Regions from separate parts of the Homo sapiens genome. Here region 2 is linked to region 1. The links come from fine-mapping of genetic effects on gene expression. Tissue or cell type: whole blood. Region 1 holds a variant in brackets; the other region holds the start of a gene. All regions are shown on one strand. Distances are between the middles of the regions.

The links. PIP is the estimated chance that this variant, and not a neighbour inherited with it, causes the effect.
Region 2: GORASP1 starts here. The variant in region 1 is fine-mapped to the expression of GORASP1 in whole blood (TOPMed, PIP above 0.99).

The regions. Positions count from the first base shown.
Region 1 is chr3:39,060,217-39,070,641 of GRCh38, forward strand. WDR48 (WD repeat domain 48) reads left to right here. Exons shown (of 19, transcript NM_020839.4): 2 at 2,834-2,974; 3 at 5,595-5,673; 4 at 6,332-6,414; 5 at 6,530-6,659; 6 at 8,555-8,643; 7 at 9,427-9,528. Among named protein-coding and RNA genes, the nearest start is that of WDR48, 13 kb to the left of the region's middle. The variant G/A (reference allele first, on the strand shown) is at 4,208.
Region 2 is chr3:39,104,435-39,114,304 of GRCh38, forward strand. GORASP1 (golgi reassembly stacking protein 1) reads right to left here and starts at 3,193. Exons shown (of 9, transcript NM_031899.4): 1 at 3,045-3,193. The coding sequence starts at 3,107. It overlaps TTC21A (tetratricopeptide repeat domain 21A), which reads left to right and starts at 3,246. Exons shown (of 29, transcript NM_001366900.1): 1 at 3,246-3,430; 2 at 4,651-4,780; 3 at 5,595-5,705; 4 at 6,417-6,583; 5 at 8,024-8,146. The coding sequence starts at 3,404. RefSeq lists a silencer at 2,823-3,142.

The sequences.
Region 1 (10,425 bases):
CTCCCCGTTTTTCATTTTTCCCTCCTTCAATCTCCTGGCAATTACTAATCTACTTTCTGTGTGGATTTGTCTATCCTAGACATTATATATAAATAGAGTCATAAAATATGTGGCCTTTTGTAAAATATGTGGCTTCTTTCACTTAGCACATTTTCAAGGTTCATCCACGTTATAGCATGTGTCAGTACAGTGTGTGTGTGTGCATATATATATATATATATGCACACACACACATCACATTTTATTTGTTTTGTCCATTGATGGATATTTGGGTTGTTTCCACTTTTGTAACATTATTGTGAATGCCACAATGCTGTGAACATTCTTGTACATAGAAAAGGTTTTGACTTGTATTTGGCCAGATCACCATTGCTCTTTTCCTTCGTAAAGATTACCATCTTTCTTGGCATGTTGGAAGAGTTTTCTCTGGCAAGGGACTATGTAAATATTCACCTGTCTTTTAAAAATTATTTTTATGCTGGCCAGGTGCAGTGGCTCACGCCTGTAATCCCAGCACTTTGGGAGGCTGAGGCGGGTGGACCACTTGAAACCCAGCCTGGCCAACATGGTGAAACCACCATCTCTACTAAAAATGCAAAAATCAGCTGGGCACAGTGGCATATGCCTGTAATCCCAGCTACTCAGGAGGCTGAGGCACGAGAATTGCTTGAACCTGGGAGGTAGAGGATGTAGTAAGCCAAGATCGGGCCACTGCTTTCCAGCCTGGGTGACAGAGCAAGATTCTCTCAAAAAATAAAAACAAAAATTATTTTTATGGTTATTAAATTTCAGTCTTTAATTCATAGAAAAATTCGTTTTTGGTTTAAGATGTGGAGAAAGGGTATAATTGTTCCTAATAGAATCACTATAGGTACTTGAGATAATTTTTTTTAATTATTATACTTCAAGTTCTAGGGTACATGTGCACAACGTGCAGGTTTGTTACATAAGTATACATGTGCCATGTTGGTTTGTTGCACCCATCAACTTGTTATTTACATTAGGTATTTCTCCTAATGCTATCCCTCCCCCAGCCCCCTACCCCCCAACATGCCCCAGTGTGTGATGTTCCCTGCCCTGTGTCCATGTGTTCTCATTGTTCAGCTCCCACTTACGAGTGAGAACATGTGGTGTTTGGTTTTCTGTCCTTGTGATAGTTTGCTGAGAATGATGGTTTCTGGCTTCATCCATGTCCCTGCAAAGGACATGAACTCATCCTTTTTTATGGCTGCATAGTATTCCATGGTGTATATGTGCCACATTTTCTTAATTCAGTCTATCATTGATGGACATTTGGGTTGGTTCCAAGTCTTTGCTATTGTGAATAGTGCTGCAATAAACATACGTGGGCATGTTTCTTTATAGTAGAATGATTTATAATCCTTTGGGTATATACTCAGTAATGGGATGGCCGGGTCAAATGGTATTTCTAGTTGTAGATTCTTGAGGAATCGCCACACTGTCTTCCACAGTGGTTGAACTACTTTACACTCCCACCAACAGTGTAAAAGCATTCCTATTTCTCCACATCCTCTCCAGCATCTGTTGTTTCCTGACTTTTTAATGACTGCCACTCTAACTGGCATGAGATGGTATCTCATTGTGGTTTTGATTTGCATTTCTCTGATGGCCAGTGATGATGAGCATTTTTTCTTGTGTCTGCTGCAGAAATGTCTTCTTTTGAGAAGTGTCTGTTCATATCCTTTGCCCACTTTTTGATGGGGTTGTTTTTGTTGTTGTTGTTGTTGTACATTTGTTTAAGTTCTTTGTAGATTCTGTATATTAGCCCTTTGTCAGATGGGTAGATTGCAAAAATTTTCTCCCATTCTGTAGGTTGCCTGTTCACTCTGATGATAGTTTCTTTTGCTGTGCATAAGCTCTTTAGTTTAATTAGATCTCATTTGTCAATTTTGGCTTTTGTTGCCATTGCTTTTGGTGTTTTAGTCATGAAGTCTTTGCCCATGCCTGTGTCCTGAATTGTATTGCCTAGGTTTTCTTCTAGGGTTTTTATGGTTTTAAGTCTTAACATTTAAGTCTTTAGTCCATCTTGAGTTAATTTTTAACTGTTTATTTCATTACATTAGAAAGTTTTACTTCTGGCTGCCAGCCAGCTTATTGACTTTTTCTTAGGTGTAATTGTTTTCAGTTGATCCCCTGTTTTCACAAGGAACAGACAGAGGTCACCAACAGTAACAAAGTAGGGGAAAATGCCCTGAAGAAAAAGTTTAGTATGTGATAGGAGCTCAAAACCTCATTTTGCTTGGCAAGTCAGGGAAGGCCTTCTAAAGGAAGTATTGTTTAAATGGAAACCTGAAGGCTGCAACAAGAGTTAGCCAGACAGGTCGGAGGAAGAGCTTCCAAACAGAGAGGACCAGCATGTGTGATGGTCTGGAGGCACAATGCACCAGAACCTGGAGCAGAGATGAGTGGCCAGAAAGACAAACAGGGTACTTGAGACCATGTTAAGGAATTTACATCCAATCATGAGTCTAGTAGTCAGCAACTGGAGGTTTTTGAGCAGAGCTGAGATAGATTTTTAAATAATTACTCTAGCTGCTTTGTGAAAAATGGACTAAAGACTGGGAAAGGAGTCCAGTCAGGAAGCAGTTATAGTAGTTTAGCAACTTACTCATGTTGGACTAGGCTATCATTGATACCATCCTTCTCTTCAGCCCTTTAGTCTTTAAGGAGTAAAATTTAAATTTGTATTGGGTTGAAAAAGTACATATTGGAAAACATGGGATTTTCTGTTTCAGATTGGCCACTAGTAGACTATATTTTATTACTGCATGGCTTGTACTTTATAAAAAGCATATGTTGACACATTTGTCAGGTTTCCTATGTTATTCGAGATGAAGTGGAGAAGTACAACCGAAATGGAGTCAATGCTCTGCAGCTGGATCCAGCACTAAATAGACTTTTCACAGCCGGTCGAGACTCTATCATAAGAATATGGAGTGTCAATCAGCACAAGGTAATGCAGGGATTAAAATCTGTACCCAGCAAATTCTGGACAAATGGCTTTTACTGTCTAATATGACACTTTTCACAGTTTCAGATTTAATCTCTCTGAATGCTGAGTTATTTGGTACACTCTATAAAGACATCGCAACCAGAATTCTGTAAGCCTCTGAGAAAAACCATCCCTAGGAAAGTTTCAGAAGTGTTTCAGCTAAGACAAGGACTCCCTAAACTAGGTTTGCCTTACAGAGTTCTTTGCCACAAAGGAACAAAGTGATTTGGCTAGTAGGGGGATTACTTTCAACAATTAATTTTTTTGCTTTAAATATGTTCCCCAACAACCTCTTGGTAACCTTACTAAAAAAAGATTGAATATTCTTTTACATTTCTAATTAATCTTGAAAAAATATTTTATTTTCCTCACTTAAAAGTAATTAGGATCCTCACAAACCCCACACGGCCTAACTAGGTAATACAAGGTTAGGCTGAGCATGGTGGCCCACACCTGCAATCCCAACAATTTCGGAGGCCAAAGTGAAAGGATTCCTTGAGTCCAGGAGTTCGAGACCAGCCTGGGCAATGTGACAATACCCTGTCTCTGCAAAAAAAAAAACTTAAAAATTAGCTGGGCATGGTGGCACACACCTGTAGTCCCAGCTACTCGGGGAGCTGAGGTGGGAGGATCACTTGATTGAGTATGGGAGGTTGAGGCTGAGTGAGCCGTGATCACACCACTGCATTCCAGCTTGGGCAACAGAGGGAGACCTTGTCTCAAATAAATAAATAAAGATAATATAAAATTGGTGTTAAAACTATGAAGACAACATGCTCCCCTTCAAAGATTTCCCTTTCTTAAGCAGGGAACAGGGTTTAAATATGTGTAAAGATAAATCCCCAGGCAAATGGTAACGAGCCCTTTTAGTATTTTGTTGGAACACCTATATTGTGAATGACAGAGAAAAGAAGAATCAGGGAAGAAAAAAAGAGCATTTATTGATCTTCTAATTATGTGCCATACGCTCTTTGCATTTTCATATCCAATGTGATTTTAATTTTCAGTGTCCCTCAAGGTACCTATTAGGATCCATTTTCTTTTTTTTCTTTTTTTTTTTTTGAGATGGAGTCTCGCTCTGTCACCCAGGCTGGAGTGCAGTGGCGCGATCTTGGCTCACTGCAACCTCTTGACTCCTGGCTTCAATCAATTTTCCTGCCTCAGCCTCCTCAGCAGCTGGGACTACAGGCACAC[G/A]CCACCACATCCAGCTAATTTTTATAATTTTAGTAGAGACGGGGTTTCACCATGTGGGTCAGGCTGGTCTCAAACTTCTAGACTCAGATAATCCAACTGCCTTGGCCTCCCAAAGTGCTGGTATTACAGGCGTGAGCCACCGCGCCTGGCCAGATCCATTTTCATAGATGAGAAAATGGGCTCAGAGAAACCCATGGTTATGTGGCTAGGAAGTGACAGAGAATTAGTACCCAGCCCAACTTGAAAACCCTAGTGCTAGACCTTGTATTTTTAAAAGTTTGTGTCTTTTTAGCAAGTTTTACAAGTCTGATATTCAGTTCAGAAAAAGAACCACTACTTTATGCGCCTATAACTTCAGTCTGGCAGGCTTTGAATTCTTTAGCCAATGGACCATGCAGTGGTGGCCAAATGTCAAAAGCATGAAAAGTAAGAAAACTATGTTTGGCTTTGAAATGCTTTTTGGTACTTATAATTGAATTGGAATGTCTCCTTTCTGAGCATTCACAGTATTTCAAACAAATTAAGAAAAACACCCAAAAGAACTAACCTGAAGAATCTGGAAATCTGCCTGTCTTGCCCCAAACATCTTTTTTCTGGTCTTCCTTTTATGACAAGATTGAATAGCATTATTTGTCAAACAGACTTGTACAGAGCTGTTCTGTTTGCCCATAAAGTGTCTCAAACTTGCCTGTTTTAGGTGTAGGATGTAACTAAATACTGTTCTTTAAAAGGCCTCTCCTGGTTATTAAGCCAGGTAAGAGAAGTAGAATCTCGAATCACCTAATTGAAATGGTGACACAGGTTGTCCTTTCTCAGCCGTTGGGTTTCCTTTCATCTCTGAAGGCCTGTAGGTACCATGAGGAAAACATTTAATTCAGAGGGTGAACCCAACAGTAGGAAGCTGAAAGCAGAAGTGTTTATCTCCCTCTGCATTCAGACCAGGCTCCTTAGTGCACTCATCAGACTCATTGCTGCCCCTGCTGTCTGCTGTTGAGCCTTCACCACCACTCATTCAAATCCCCACAGCCTACAGATTCCTACAAGTCATGTCCTTTCTAGTGAACCCTTTTTAAAGGGTTTTATGTCACACACAGTGCCTAGTCCAGAGCTTGTTGCCTTCACTTTAACAAGGCAAAAAAAAAAAAAATGAAGTATTTGTCCTGGAAACCTAAGCTTTCAGTAAGAGTAAAACTGTCCTGAAACAAAACTGTTTACATCTGTTATCTGGAAGCATCACCTATTTGGTGAGATTCTACTCAGAATTCAGGTGTTAGTTTTAATGCCTAGAGCAGTATGTCACATTAATTGAAGAATTTAACCATATCTATCATTTGTAATATATTTCATTCTCTCATATAAACTCTTAGGATTTTTCTTTTAATTTCAGCAAGATCCATATATAGCATCTATGGAACACCATACTGATTGGGTAAACGACATTGTACTCTGTTGTAATGGGAAAACATGTAAGTATTTCTTTGGATTATTATTGGGCTTCTGATATATTTTTTGTTTTTTATATAAGCTTTTTTATTGAAACATACATACAGAAAAGTACACACACTTCGAGATTGCAGTTCAACACAATTTTAGAAAGTGAATACCCAAATCAAGAAACAATATTACTAGAAGCCCTCTTGTGCCACCCTTTGCCACCCTTTCAGTTATTCCCTCTTGCCCCAAGGTAACTGCTCTTCTGTCTTCTGAACACCAAAGGGTAGTTTTGCCTTCATTTGAACTGTATATAGACTCGTACTATATGTATTCTTCTTTTAGCCTTATTAATACCTCTTTTTGTTCTAATTTTGGTGAGATCCATTCCTTGGTTTTGCAGTCCGAGTTACAGGAATTTTTCTCAATCACATTAGTTGAGCCTTCAACTGGAACATTAAAAATGTTTGCACTGCTTGTTTTAAAAATATATTTTTTTCTTTGAACATGTGTCTTGAGATTTTAAAAAATTGAGGCAATATACAATAGGTTCTAGAAAGAGCTTTTAGGTATGTTTGTGTGTGTAAGAGAGAGAATATGTTAGTTTGAAATAATGTTACATTGTTGTAAGATAAGTTTTCAAAGTTTTAAGTCATACTACTAAGGAGTTTGTTAATTCTTTGCTTCTTCTAGTAATATCTGCTTCTTCTGACACGACAGTAAAAGTATGGAATGCACACAAGGGATTTTGCATGTCAACATTAAGGACACATAAGGTAAAACAATACAGTTCTCAGTGTCTTTAGTGTAATATTGGGATCTCAGTACTTTGTGTGGCTCATTTTATTACTGATCTACAGAATAGATCATAGTATGTCTGTTCTATTACAGGATTACGTAAAGGCCTTAGCATATGCCAAGGATAAAGAACTAGTAGCATCAGCTGGGTTGGACAGACAAATATTCCTTTGGGATGTGAATACTCTAACAGCATTGACTGCCTCAAATAACACTGTCACAAGTAAGGTGTTTAAAAGAAACTTCTTTGAAAGTGATCCAAGTTAACATAAATAAAGAATGGTTTATAAAACATTTTTGATAGGTTTGCATCGAGAGAGTGTTTCATATTTTGAGAGTGCTTCTACCTACAGCGTTCTGGCCCCCAAGAGTATGATTGAACAACAAAGAGCTAGTTCCTCACTGCAGTCTAAAAATGGTAACTTCTCCAGGTATAACCTGGTTATTTTTTGTACGTGTGCATGTCTTAGCTCCCTAGCTAAAATGTAAGTCCCTGCAGGGTAGAGGAGACTGTCTTACTACTTCGTATCTCCCACAGCATTCCCTGGTCCAAATCCATACACTCAGCAGGTATTATTGAAGGAGGTGGCGATTTTCTGACAAAGTAGGCGGTTTTCTGACTTTTTAAAGTGTTAAGAGCTTTTGAGTTAATAGCCAAGATGAAAAATACCCAGGAGAAAGAAAGAAAAGGTTTCCAGTGCCAGTTTATCAAATTTTCTGCCTTTTAGAGCAGCCCTGAGGAATCAAGCCAATTCCAGAAGAGCCAGAACGGTAGAGTGCTTCTAGAGGCAATCCAGAGATGTTCACAGCATGGATGATTCATCAGCTAAGAGATCTCAGACTACCAAGTCAGGCTCATACAAGTCTAGATTTGAAATTGAGCTTCATGCTTGGCCCAACCTAGTAGAGTCCTCTAGGCCAGGTTTCAGAAGGGACTGTTAGGAGCACATTTTTGGCTAGGCCTGACCTGGAAAGTCTACATTGAAGACATGGGCCTGCATTCTCTGGATCCCTACATTATAGGTCCATTTTATAACGACTCTGTGGAGTGTTCACATTGACATAGACAATACAGTTTTACTAATATAGCCTAGTATGTGCCAAGAAGGGTAAGTTGGGAGACTTGTGTTTATAATCTCTTGATTGTTGTTTTGCCTTGTTTTCCAGGAAATATGTGAAGGTCTCAACATTCTTTTTCCCTTGTTCTTGATTTTTCACCTGTACATTATCTCTGATTCATTAGCTGGTCCCTGTTGGGGCTGTCATGGTACATCATTAGGTTTTAAGTCTGGATGTAAGGCCTGCCTCAAAGAGACACTAATGGGAGGGAACAAAGCAAAAAAAAAAAAGCAGGTTGTCACAAGGTCAGGGCCCAGGCTTAGTGGATACAGATTCTGCTACATCTTGCTTAGAGTTGTTTAGAGAGGATATCACACTTTTTTTTAATACATAATAATAAAAATAATACTAATAATGGCTAACCTGTATTGAGTACTTGCTACAAGTAGACATTTTTCTAAACAGTACATGTAGTAACTCATTTACTCAACTTTTTAATATGTTTGTAAAATTGGGTTCATACTATATAGACAGTTTCATATACATCTTTTTTACTTCAGTGATACTGAGAGTATGAACATGATTTTTGCTATAGTCTGAATTCCTTCCTGAAAGGTTGTACCTATTTATCTTCACATAAGTAATATATGAGAGTTCCATTGTACTGTTTTCTTTTTACAATCAAGTATTACCTTGTTTTTTGTCTTGGTGTATGAAACAGTGTTTTTGGTTTGATTTGTGTTTGAAAAATACTGAAATTGAACATTTTTTCATATTTATGGCACATGAATAGCTTTAAACATATCATTTAAGCGGATAGCTTTTCAATGGCACTGCAGTTTATCAGATATTGAGCATTTGTATATATTCAAATCCAGAAAATATGTAAATTTTGATAATAATACTGTTTAGATTTATCTCCATTATAGGTAGATTTCTTTTCCGTAGAGGACTTATAAAGATAAGATTTTCTAAATTGAATAAACTTGCAGTTTTTGCTGACTAGTTACTAAACAGCTGATGATCTTGTTAACATTTAGCTCCGTTTATCCTCAATAGCTTCTTCTTTAAGTGGAAACAAAGATTCCATTTATAGCCTGGCCATGAATCAACTGGGAACAATCATTGTATCAGGGTCCACTGAAAAGGTAAGGAGGAGCTTATTTCTTTATTTAAAAAAAAAAATTATTTTTCACATACCTTGTCTCCTATTTTTTAAGCAGGTATTTTACGATTAGCTTCTTTATATTTATTTATTTAGAGACTGGGTCTCACTCTGTCACCCAGGTTGGGGTGCAGTGGCATCATGATCCTGGCTCACTGCAGCCTTGACTGCTGAGGCTGTAGCGATCCTTCCACCTCAATCTCCTGAGTAGCTGGGACCCCAGGCACACACCATCACGTGCATCAGGCCACTCCTTGTCCCATCTGGCTAATTTTTGTATATTTTTAATAGAGACAGGGTTTCGCCATGTTGTCCCTCCAACTCCTTAGTGCAAGCAATTCACCTGCCTTGGCCTCCCAGAGTGCTGAGATTACAGGCATGAGAGCCACTGTGCCCCAATCGGGGGAGCTTAAAGGGTGGTTTGAACATTAGAAAATAAAGAAACCAAAATAATTTAATCTGTGTAATTATTAAATATATGGACAGTGGTTTTGCCTAGTGGGTGCTAAACAAAAGGTTTTATTTGAATAAGTAAGAGTATAACTATAACTGTTGTGTGTATAGTGACAAGATAAAGAGGCTGTGCATTTTTGATGTTTGAAAGGCCTAATTCCCTGAGGTTGGGAGGCTTAGACAGTGTCCATTGGCAGAAGTGGTATTGCCTTCTCAGAATATAATGGTTATCATTTGACTTATGAGAGTTGTCTGTTATTTAAATTTGATACTGATATATTTAGTTTGTGTAATACTCTATTAAAATTCACAGGTGTTACGGGTATGGGATCCAAGAACATGTGCAAAACTAATGAAGCTTAAAGGGCACACGGATAATGTGAAGGCATTGCTATTAAACAGAGATGGCACGCAAGTATGCAGTTTCATTTGGGTGTTTACCTAATAACCTTGTTAGAAATTTCCGCACTTTGTATACTATTGCATAGGTTGATTTGAACCGAAAGCCACACTTATTATAAATTGTCTAATTAAAAAATTTTAAAATACTAAATTGCACATATAAGCTACATTTAAAAACTATTCTATTTGCATCACTTTTAACAAAACAAAGAATTTCCTTAGAATAATTCTGATGCAGATGAGTATATGCATTTATGGTGCATAGGGGCTAAAATAACTAAAAACATTACCTGTGTAAAGCAAAAGGAAGCTTTGATATCAAATGCTTTTTGCCAGTGTATTAAGTGGAAAATTTGCTCACAGTGGGTCTGACTTAGGGGCACATTTTGTCAGTTGACTATGTAGATATAGTTGATAAATTTAGTTTTCTAACATAATGCTCAGAGTGAACATTTCAAAGAAAAACATTTTGGTAATGTTATACATTAGCTCTGTTGGCCACGTAATTTGTGAATTATAAATCACAATTCTGTTCTGTAGCAATGGAAAATACTTTTTCATCAATGTAGATAATAAAAAACAAAAACTGAGCATCATTTTATGGGTATGACATATGTCTACCATGTACCCTTGACTCAGCCATTTTTTTTCCAGAATGCAGTGATAAGTCAGAGATAACTGGAATTGATTGTGATAGGGTTAGAAAAGGGCAGGTAGAAAGATGATGAGGTGAGAAACACCATCAGTTTCTTTTCCTGTGGAAGTTAAGACTTTAGACATGAAATTGCTAAAATTTCACGTCTAAGAAATTGCTTTAGACATCAATCAGAGAAGCCGTCGCCTCCAGAAATGAACAGAAGGTTTGGAAACTAGTCTAAGGAAGGAAATCATTTTTCAGAACCAGGAGAAG
Region 2 (9,870 bases), 44 kb after region 1:
CTTTGTCCCAAGGCCCTAGACCCGAAGATGGGCCCACACCCTCAGGTCTTTGGCTGCGGGCATTTGATAACCTGTTGGCGTAGACACCAGCCAGACCCAGCCCAGAGGGCACAGGACCTAGGCTCTTGCTGCCTCCTCATGGGAAAGGCCCTGTGGCTCCTGCTACATACCAGCCCCTCCAGGTTTGGATTCCCCAACCTGAAGGAGAGCTCATGAAGACTAGGCTGAGAACAAACCGCTGAGATCAAGGCCAGTTTGCCCCTGGAATTAGGATTCCCTTCTGGCAGCATCACCAACTGAGCCCCTCCTTATCACCTCCAGAAGCTGCCATGGCTTCCAAAGGGAGTGAGTGCGGCCCAGAAATCAGATCTGGGCCTAGTTGGCCTGGCCCAGTAGGCAAGCTGCTCCCAGGCCCCGCTGCAGGGGAGCTCTGGGCCCTGCCCTCTAACCCTTCAGGTGAGGGGATCTTTCGAAAACCACAGGACAGGACAGTTATTCAGGAATAGCTTGGGGACAATGCCCCTCCCTAATCAGGGCCACCTCCAAATCACTCCACGTCAGGTGCCTGCCTACTTCCCTCCCCACTCCCCAGTATTGCATGTCAGCTGCTCTCCATCATGAATGAGGTCCAGAGGGTCAGGCCCCAGGCCTGGCCTCCTTGACCCACCCAATACCTCCACCACCCTCTCCTGTGGCTTTGTCCTCTGCTTGGCTACACTCCACTTCTCTCACCTGGGGCCTCATCACTACTCACTATGGCTCCGCAGCTGAAATAATCTATGCTGCTGCCCACTGTACGGCTCCCCCTGCAGAAACCACTGCCTGCCATCCAGCTCCCTCAGGGGCTCCCATCACAGCCTGCCCCAAGGCCCTATAGTGCTGCTTTTCCTCATGCTCCCACCCTATTTTTCCCAATCAGGGAACCTAATGGAACTCACAGTGATCACAACTTACACTTACTAAGGGCTGGTTGGCTGAGTGCCAGGGCATGGCACCACCTCACCTGCTTTATGTGTCATTTAACCTTTTTAATAACCTCAAATGACAAATGAGACCAAGTACTCAATAATTCAGTAATTTGACCCCAGGAAATCCAACCCAGAGCCCTCCCCCTAACCACTGCCCTCTCCTAACAGCTGTTTCCTGGTGAATCTGCCACTACTCTAAGCTCGCTGAGGGCAGCGACTTCTCCAAAGTATTGGGCACGCAGCGAGGTGCCAATATTTCTAGAATGCAGCACAGCTGTTCTTCAGTGTTGTTAAAGGTAAGTAGGTCATGTCACTCCTCCATTTAAAACCTCCTGATGGTTTTACATCTCAGAATAAAATCTTAAATCTTCAGGACAACAGGCAAGGTCCTACACGGTCTGCTCTGGTCTCCTCCTCACACTGGCCACACCATCCAAGCACACCAGCCTCACCTGGCATTTCCTCAAACACACAAGCACAACCTACCTCGGGGCCTCTGCACAAGCTGGTCCTTCTGCCTGGAATACTACTATTCCCCTAAATATCTGTATTGTCCACTCTTTACTTCCTTCAGAAGCATCTGTTCGAATGTGACTTGAGAAGAGGCCCTTCCTGACCACTCTATCAAAAATAGCACCCACTCACCATTCTGTATCCCCTTAACCTGCTTTATTTTTATCACTGGTAATTACCACCTACCATGTATTTTTTCATTTCCCTTCTTTCCCTACCATCATCCAAATGTCAGCTCCAGAACAGGGACCATGTTTGTTCTGTTCACTGCTTTATCTCTAGAGCCTTAGAATTCTGCCTGCCAGAGTAGGAGCTCAAAACTTTGTTTTTGTGACTGACAACCTCTGATCCCTGGTCCCTCTCCAATTTGTCCCTCTCCATCAGGCAGGCCCCTCCCGTCTTCGAAGCTCCCATCATCGCCCCACCCCTCCTCTTGCCAATATCCTGAGTTCCTTTGCCTTTAATCAAACCTGTTGGAAGACGCTCCTGGCTGGATGCATTCCACTGTCCACGCTTGCTGTTTGGTGTCTCACCATAAGAAAGCCCATTCCCAAGCACAAATCCTGTCAACTCTGGGTTCTCCAAGCCAGCCTGGTTTTCACGTTAAGAAACTTTTAGCCCTCTCATGTGGTTAGCTGGCAACAGACCCTACCTTCAAAACACACAAACCGACAAGCTTGCCTGTCTCCACTCATCTCTGCATCCAGCTGCCTTTCACTAGGGAAAGGGGGGGTGCAGGGACGCCTCTTCCCCGCAGCGCTCCGGGGTCAGAGACCCCCAGCCCCTCTCACCTACATTATAGCCCTTCCCTCACCGCAGGCACAAATCTCCATCCGGCTGCGGGACCCTCTCCTCACCCTCACAGCACACTCCGTTCTAGGAACCCCACTCCGTCTCCACTCTCCGGAAGCCTGCTCGCCCAGACCTCCATGTAGCGGCATCTAAAGGCTGGGACCCTCCCCAGCTGCAAACGCTCTCCTCGAGGATTCTGCAGCACTCTCCCGGCCCTCCCGCTCCCCACTATCCCGTGGCTGGTTTGCACCGGTCCTCTACCCTCGGAAGCCCTTACGACCCTACGACTGGCAGGACGCGCGCCGACGGGCTCCCCCGCAGCTGCGTCCACTCGGTTAACCCCGGCCCCCGGGACTGTCCTCGGCGTGGCTGACTCTCTTCCCAGGCCCAGCACGGAGAGCGGCCCGCGGCAGGCGAGCGTAAATGTGTGCTAAGTGCACGAGTGCGTCCCGACTGGTAGTGGTGCATTCTTCACCCGGGAGGAGCGCCATTCCCGGCGGCCGGACCAGGAAAACGCTCCGCTTCCGGCACTGCTGGCACTTGGGGCGGGCGCTGGGCCCGACCGCGGCCGCGGACTAGCCAGGGTCCGGGAGTCCCGCGAGGCCGCCTCTCCCAGGAGGCTCCCACCGGGCAGGGGGCACCTCCCGCCACCCAGGCGGAAACACTCGGGCCGGGACCCCGCCGCAGTCGCCAGCCAGCCGGCGACCGGACGCCCGGGCGCGGGGTTGCGGGCGCCTCGCCAAGGTCACCGGCGCCGCGGCGGCAACTCACCCCGTGGAGGTGGAAGCCCTCGGCGCCGCCTGCGGGCTGCTCAGCGCTGACGCCCAGGCCCATGGCAGCGGCTCCGCTCGGCACCCAGGTCCAGTCCCGCTGCGCCTACCCGGACCGACCCGACGCCAGTAGCACCGACTCGCTCTCTCGGCGCTCGATTCCTGCGCCTTGTGACGTGAGGCGTTTTGTTCCTCCCACTCCAGACACTGGACGCTCCTAGCAACCGGCTAGCAGCTCGGTTTCCAAGGACTGTAACGCCTTCAACCGCCCGCCGCGATAGAGTGCCCACGACCCTGCCTCGGGAATCCCGCTCTGCACCGCCCCACCAGACCCGGACTCGGAGCCGCGAGCGGCCCGAGATGAGCAGCAATGACTCCTCCCTTATGGTGCGTGGCCCGGGCGCTGTCCGAGGGCTCCCTCGTGACTCCCCGCCCCTGACCCAGAGACCGTCTGCCCTGCTACTCTCCTGCCACCCTTCGCTGTCCTCAGTTATATCAGGCGGTCCTGCCTTTTCTTGCCCCACTCCCCCTGGCAAGGGCGTCTTCTCCGGTGGCTTCTGCGCACCCTGAGCCCCAAATTAGCATCCCCGTTTCTTGAGCTACCCCAAACCAGCTCATCCAATCACTATCATTATCCCTTCTTGTCATCATCCCTTCTTCCACCCAGCTCACTCTCGCCTGCGCCTCCCACCCCAGTTGATGGCTTCACCATTTAATCTCCTAGCCTTAACTCATACCTCTTCCCTATACTCATCTTCTAATCCTGTCTACAAGAAATGCCAGCTCCTTGATGTCTCCTGGGTTTTCTTTTTATCTTTTTATCTTCTAGCCCAGAACCAGCACCATCTCTCCCCCCTGAGAGCCTGCAACAGCCTCCCTCCCATCTGGTTTCTCTGCTGTGGCTCTTTTCAGCATCAGTAGTCCCTGCTGCCACCACGGCACACACCCCCCACATGCAAAAGCAGCCAGAGTGGTTGTTGCAAAAATGTACATCTGAAAACATCCCTCGCCTTAAAACCATTCTGCTTTCTGTTACCCTTAGGATGGTGTCTGGGCTCTTTCATATGGCCCATGAGGATGTTTACAGTCCAACCACATCTGCTCCCAACCTAGCACCCACAAACCTTAGAGGAAGTGAAACTTAACTTTAAAATCTCAGCCCCTTTGTCAAGCTGTAGTTTCCATGGGCTTAAGCTTCCTTAGCTGTGAAAGATACTGAGAGGACCATGCACAGGATAGTGGATATGAAGCCCACAATAACTTGTAACTACAATTCGTATAATTTTTCTTATTATTTGTCCTCATTTTTCCCCCCTTATTCCCTTCCTAAGACAAAGCCTTGGTTGAATTCCCCATCATAGTTGAACCAGAATCTGTTGGTAATCCCCCAAACAAACACCTCCAAACTCTTTCCTGGGAAAACTGCATGGAGCTGCTCCCAGGGCTGTTAGAGGACAGGATGAGGCCTGAATGTTTCCTCTTTCTCTTCCCTTTGCAGAACTGAGGAGGAGCAGGGGATAGGGAAGGGAGCAGGTCTCATCCCATCTGGGACAGAACAGAGACAGAGAAGGGACTGGGCTATTGCAGTTATGTCTTCCTTCATACAGGCTGGGATCATTTACTATAGCCAGGAAAAGTACTTCCACCATGTGCAGCAGGCTGCAGCTGTGGGCCTGGAAAAATTCAGCAATGACCCTGTGTTGAAGTTCTTTAAAGCCTATGGAGTCCTCAAAGAAGGTAAGGACTTGGCAGTGTTGGTCTTGTGACCCCAGGCACTAGCTGGGCCCTAACACTCTGGCTCCACCTGGATGCCTTCTTGTATCCTAGTTATGGTCCCATAAAAACAGTTTCACACTCAGCGGCTGGATTCCCACGGGAATCCACAGAGGCCTACGTAATCCATATCTAGTTGACTTTTGAGACCTCAGAGCGCTGACTATCCCTGCTCTGCACCTCGGGTTCCCTCTCTGTAAAATGAGTGGTTGGAGAGATAGCTGCATGATTCTTGAAGTAATTCCAGGCCTGGAAGCTGAGAACTGGTAATGCAGGCAAAGGAGGGGGAAGAGGTAGGTGTGAGGACAGGTGGGTATGGTACAGGTACAGGGAGAGGAGTGAGACCCATGCAGGTGCAGATGGGCTGACATTCAGAAGGTGGTCCTAGGCTGAGGACTGGCAGAATAGCCCATGGCCAAATGTCTGAGGACATGGAGGGATAAATGTAATCAGTGGCTCTTGAGCAGTAGCTGAGAATGCCCTGCCTGAGGTCCTTCTTCAGAACTGACGCAGCTAATAATTGCAGCCTCACACATATCCCCACAAGTACTCACAGGGTGAACCTTTCAAGTCCAAGATTTCCAGCCCCTAACAGCCTGGACCATGTTACCAGCAACTCTTTCAAAGAGCCCCAATCTTCAGGGAACTTGGGTCACTGGGGACCTTTCAGACCAGTTAGTCCAGCAGGTAGTAGTGCTGAGCTGTTGGGTCAGCTACAGAGTCTCATGTCCTCTAGTCCTGGAGCTTGAGAGTATAACTATGTGGACTGTCTTTGCAGAGCACATCCAGGATGCCATCAGTGACCTGGAAAGCATCAGGCATCACCCAGACGTGTCCCTGTGCTCCACCATGGCCCTCATTTATGCTCACAAAAGATGTGAAATCATTGGTGAGTGCCACCATGCTCAACCAGGCCTGACCCACCAGGGGAAGGAAAGCCCTGCCCCAGAGATAACACAGCCCCTCAAGGGCTGCCAAAGGAGGTATGTGCCCTGGTGGCTGTGCAGATGCTGTTAACCAGTGAGAAGTGGCTGCTGCTCCTCTCCCCCTGGAGGCCTGGGAGAAGACTCCATGCCTGGGCCCAACTGAGTGGAAGCAGGCAGAGCCCATGACAGTGGGAGGGGCCCATGCTCCAGATCCCAAGAGTTGGGGAAACACCCTTCTTCTTTGCCAAGATCTTGTCAGAAAAACCAAGCCAATATATATAATTCTACCCCTAATCTCCACATTTCTAGAGTCAGGGAGAGGGTCCAAGAGAGACTACAGACTACTATTTCCCTACTCACAATAAGTTGTGGGCCTGAGGCTAAGGATTTTGGTTTGGCCTGCCTGCTCAGCACACTGCTGGGCACAGAGAAGAGAAGGTAATCTCAGACAGCACACGTGAGTCCACACCAGGGCAGCCCCTGCAGCATCTCAAGGGCAGGTACTGCTGGTTTCCAGGCCTTGGGCTGCATGCGGTGTGCTGCATATGTTGAAGGAGATCCACAGTGTCTGGGGGAGACCCCGAGGTAGTTCCCTGGGCCCTCGGTGGCCCATGCAGAACCAGGCAGACTTCCACATCCTAACTCTCCCTCTTCCTTCGCTCTTGGATTTACAGACCGAGAAGCAATTCAGGAGCTTGAGTACAGCCTGAAGGAAATACGCAAGACAGTCAGTGGGACTGCACTGTACTATGCTGGCCTTTTCCTCTGGCTCATAGGCCGCCATGACAAGGCCAAAGAGTACATTGACCGCATGCTGAAGATTTCTAGAGGCTTCAGAGAGGTACTTACCACACCATGGGGACAACAGGCGAAGAAAGCAGCATCCAAACACATAATAGCAGGGTGGCCCTCATTCCCACAAAGGGCCCTGAAACTGGGGGAGAGCCACACCCAGGCACTGGCAAAACACCGGGTCTCACAGTTGCCCCACGCGTGTTGTCTCTGGGCTTAGCAGAGGTTACACATTGGCATTTGTACACAGAGTCTGATCTTTAGATAGATTTTCTATGGCTTGCACCATATTCTTAAGAAATTTTTTTTTGAGACCTCACTGCAGCCTCAACCTCCTAGGCACAAGCAATCCTTCCACCTCAGCCCCCCAAGTAGCTGGGACCATAGGTGTGTGCCAGCATGCCCAGCTAGTTTTTACATTTTTTGTAGAGACTGGGTCTTGCCATGTTGCCCAGGCTGGTCCAGACTTACTGGTTCTTTTGAAGACCCAGATGAGCTGGCCACACTGGGCCATTCCCTCCCTGTAATGCTCTGCTGGAACTGAATGGTGGCTCATGCAGTGCAGCCCATATACTGTATATCTGCACTAATATGGAATTTGAAGCCTCAGTCTAGGCCATGCCTTCTCAGCAGGGCTGATACCAATTTTCAAGGGTGTAGACATGGTCCCTGGGGGAGAGGGTGAAAAAAATCTTACTCTTTATGTATAAAACACAGATATATATACAGTACACAATACACAGATACGGTATATCTGAGGCACTAACATTTCTTGGAAGGGGAGGGATTGATTAGAAAACAGTATCTAAAGAGACTCCTTAGGATAGATAATAGAAAAAGAGAAATAGAACTATAATAGAGAAATACTGATCTAGGCCATCAAGAGGGGTGCTTTAGGGCAGGGCTCTTCCAAGTCTGCTTCCCAGGCCTGGCCCTCCCCATCTGCCTGGAGAGGCTGGGTGAAGGCTAACATGGAACCAGCGAGGTCCACGAGCTCAGAACGGCTCCTGCTCACCCACTCAGAGGGCATTCCTTGGCTTCCTATGCAGGGCCAGGCCTCGTGCTGGCCTAAGGAGTGGAGACATCAAGAGTGGCCTTGCGTAGGCCCCCATGTTGGCTCCTGACCCCAGTGTAAACAGGCAATGACAGGATAGGTGAGTGTGCCTCAGTAAGGGTCATGGAGAGCTGTAGGGGTACAGGGAGGGAGGCCTCCTAAGCAGGGGCCTCTGAGGCTGAGTTGTAAGTAGTGGTAATGGACATTAGGTGAAGGGGTTTGGTTGGGAGTGGGAGGGGCGCTGTCCAGGGCATTTCCAGACAAAGCAACAATGGGAGTCCTGGCCATGAGAGAGAGCTGGCTGCCCTGGGATCTGCACGGGACTGTGCCTGGCAGGGCCTCAGGGTTTTGGGTGGCAAAGTGTGGATCATGTGCAGGCTGAGTTGATTCTGTGCAGGACCAAGGACTTCATCTTTCATCTTGTTCTCATCCCAGGCCTATGTGCTCAGAGGCTGGGTGGACCTGACCTCAGACAAGCCCCACACTGCGAAGAAAGCCATTGAGTACCTGGAACAAGGAATTCAGGACACCAAAGATGTGCTGGGGCTGATGGGAAAGGTGGGCAGTGGAAAAGGGAGAGGTGGAAGTATTCCTGGCCAGGCCACTGGAACCAGAGACCCACCAGGTACCCCCAGGCCAAACCCTCGTAGTCTCCAGATGCCTCATCTCGTAGATAAAGAGCAGAGGCCCAGAGAGGTTCAGCAACCAATCCAGGGTTACACAGCAGTCCAAGGTCCACTCTACTTCTCAGATTTCTTCCTGCTTGATCTGAGTTTCTGTCTCATTTGCATGGGGGTCTTCTCAGGGTCACTTTCTTAAGGTCTATCCTTCCTTGACCCTCTCAGGCTTTCTCTCTGCCTCTGTGTTAGTTTCACTCAGTGCCCTTCTCCCTTTCTTCTTTTATTTTGACCTTCCCATTTCACTTCTTTCTACCTGTTAAATTCATTTAGTGTGCCGTAAGAGAAGGGAGGTATATATTTTATATGTTCTGTGTTTTCTGATCTTAAGTTTCTTTTTTCTCTTGTGAACCTCATGGAATTAATCTTTGAGAGAAAAAATGTCCTCGTATTTTCTTCTGTTTGCATATATTTTTATTATAAAAGAATACATACTTATTTAAGAAAACAGAAGCCTAAAAAAAGTCAACAGATGAATTAAAATGGCAGGCTTAGTCTTACCGCTCCAAGACAAATGTTAGTATTTTAGGGCAATGTCTTCTAGTCTTCTTTCTATACTTGGGTCCAGGGTGTGTATTAGGTTGGTTTTCTGGCTGGCAGAAAGCAATGGAGATTATTGTGAGCCAGCTTATCACAGAGCACCCTTGGGGCCAGCACCTGTGGAAAGAGAAGGCGGGCTGTGAATAGTCACAGCAAAGGCCACAGCCTACTCTTTGGGGAACTCTGGAGCCGGGATGCCCCTTCAGTGAGCTCCCCATCAGTGCCTTGACACTGGAGGTGGGCTGCCCCAGGGACAGGTGTGACCTGGGACAAAGCAGCTCCCTTCAACCATGGGTGATCCCTGGAGGGAGACTCCATGGAGAGCCATCAGCCACCAACTCTCCTGCTCCTGATGGTAGGGGGTGGGTCACACACAGCAGTCACTGTGGGGTGGGAGACAGTGTTGGTCTATAACGTAGTTTTCACCCTAGGGCATATTGTCATTTAGTTTGTTTTTCTTCATGTAATATTTTCTTTGTGTAATATTCAAAATGTCAGTTTGAACATGGATATAAAGCCAGTCTTCTACTGTATGAGCATAATGTAATTTACCAACCCAGTCCCCTATTGTTTGGATATTGGGATTGTTTCCAGTTATGCACTTAAAGTGCTTCAATGAACACATTTATGCGTAAGTCTTCATTATACGGAATAATCCTCTTGTTTTTAATGACGAGTCTCTTAATGGGGGTTACTGTAGGTCTAAGGGAAGCCGTCCTTTCAGAGTCCAATTTCAAGTCTTTTAGAAGCATTGCCCCCTGGCCCTTAGGGCACCTGTGTCATGACCCTTTGAGGAGAAACTGGTGGCTGGTGTTGGCCTGCAGAGGCCATGACCACAGCCCAATAGGCCTTGACAGAACAACAACAAAAAAAACGCCACAACCTTGCTATAGAAGTAGTTGCCAGAAAACCCTAACTGACTCAGAATTGCTAAACTGGGCCTTGGCGAGCAATTTCAGTGAGGAAATATGGAAAAGTGAATGGGAAATGAATGGAAAATGTATGGAACTGGAAAGCACCCAGTGACCTCACCTCTCCCCTTCAGGGTGACCTCACATGGCCTTA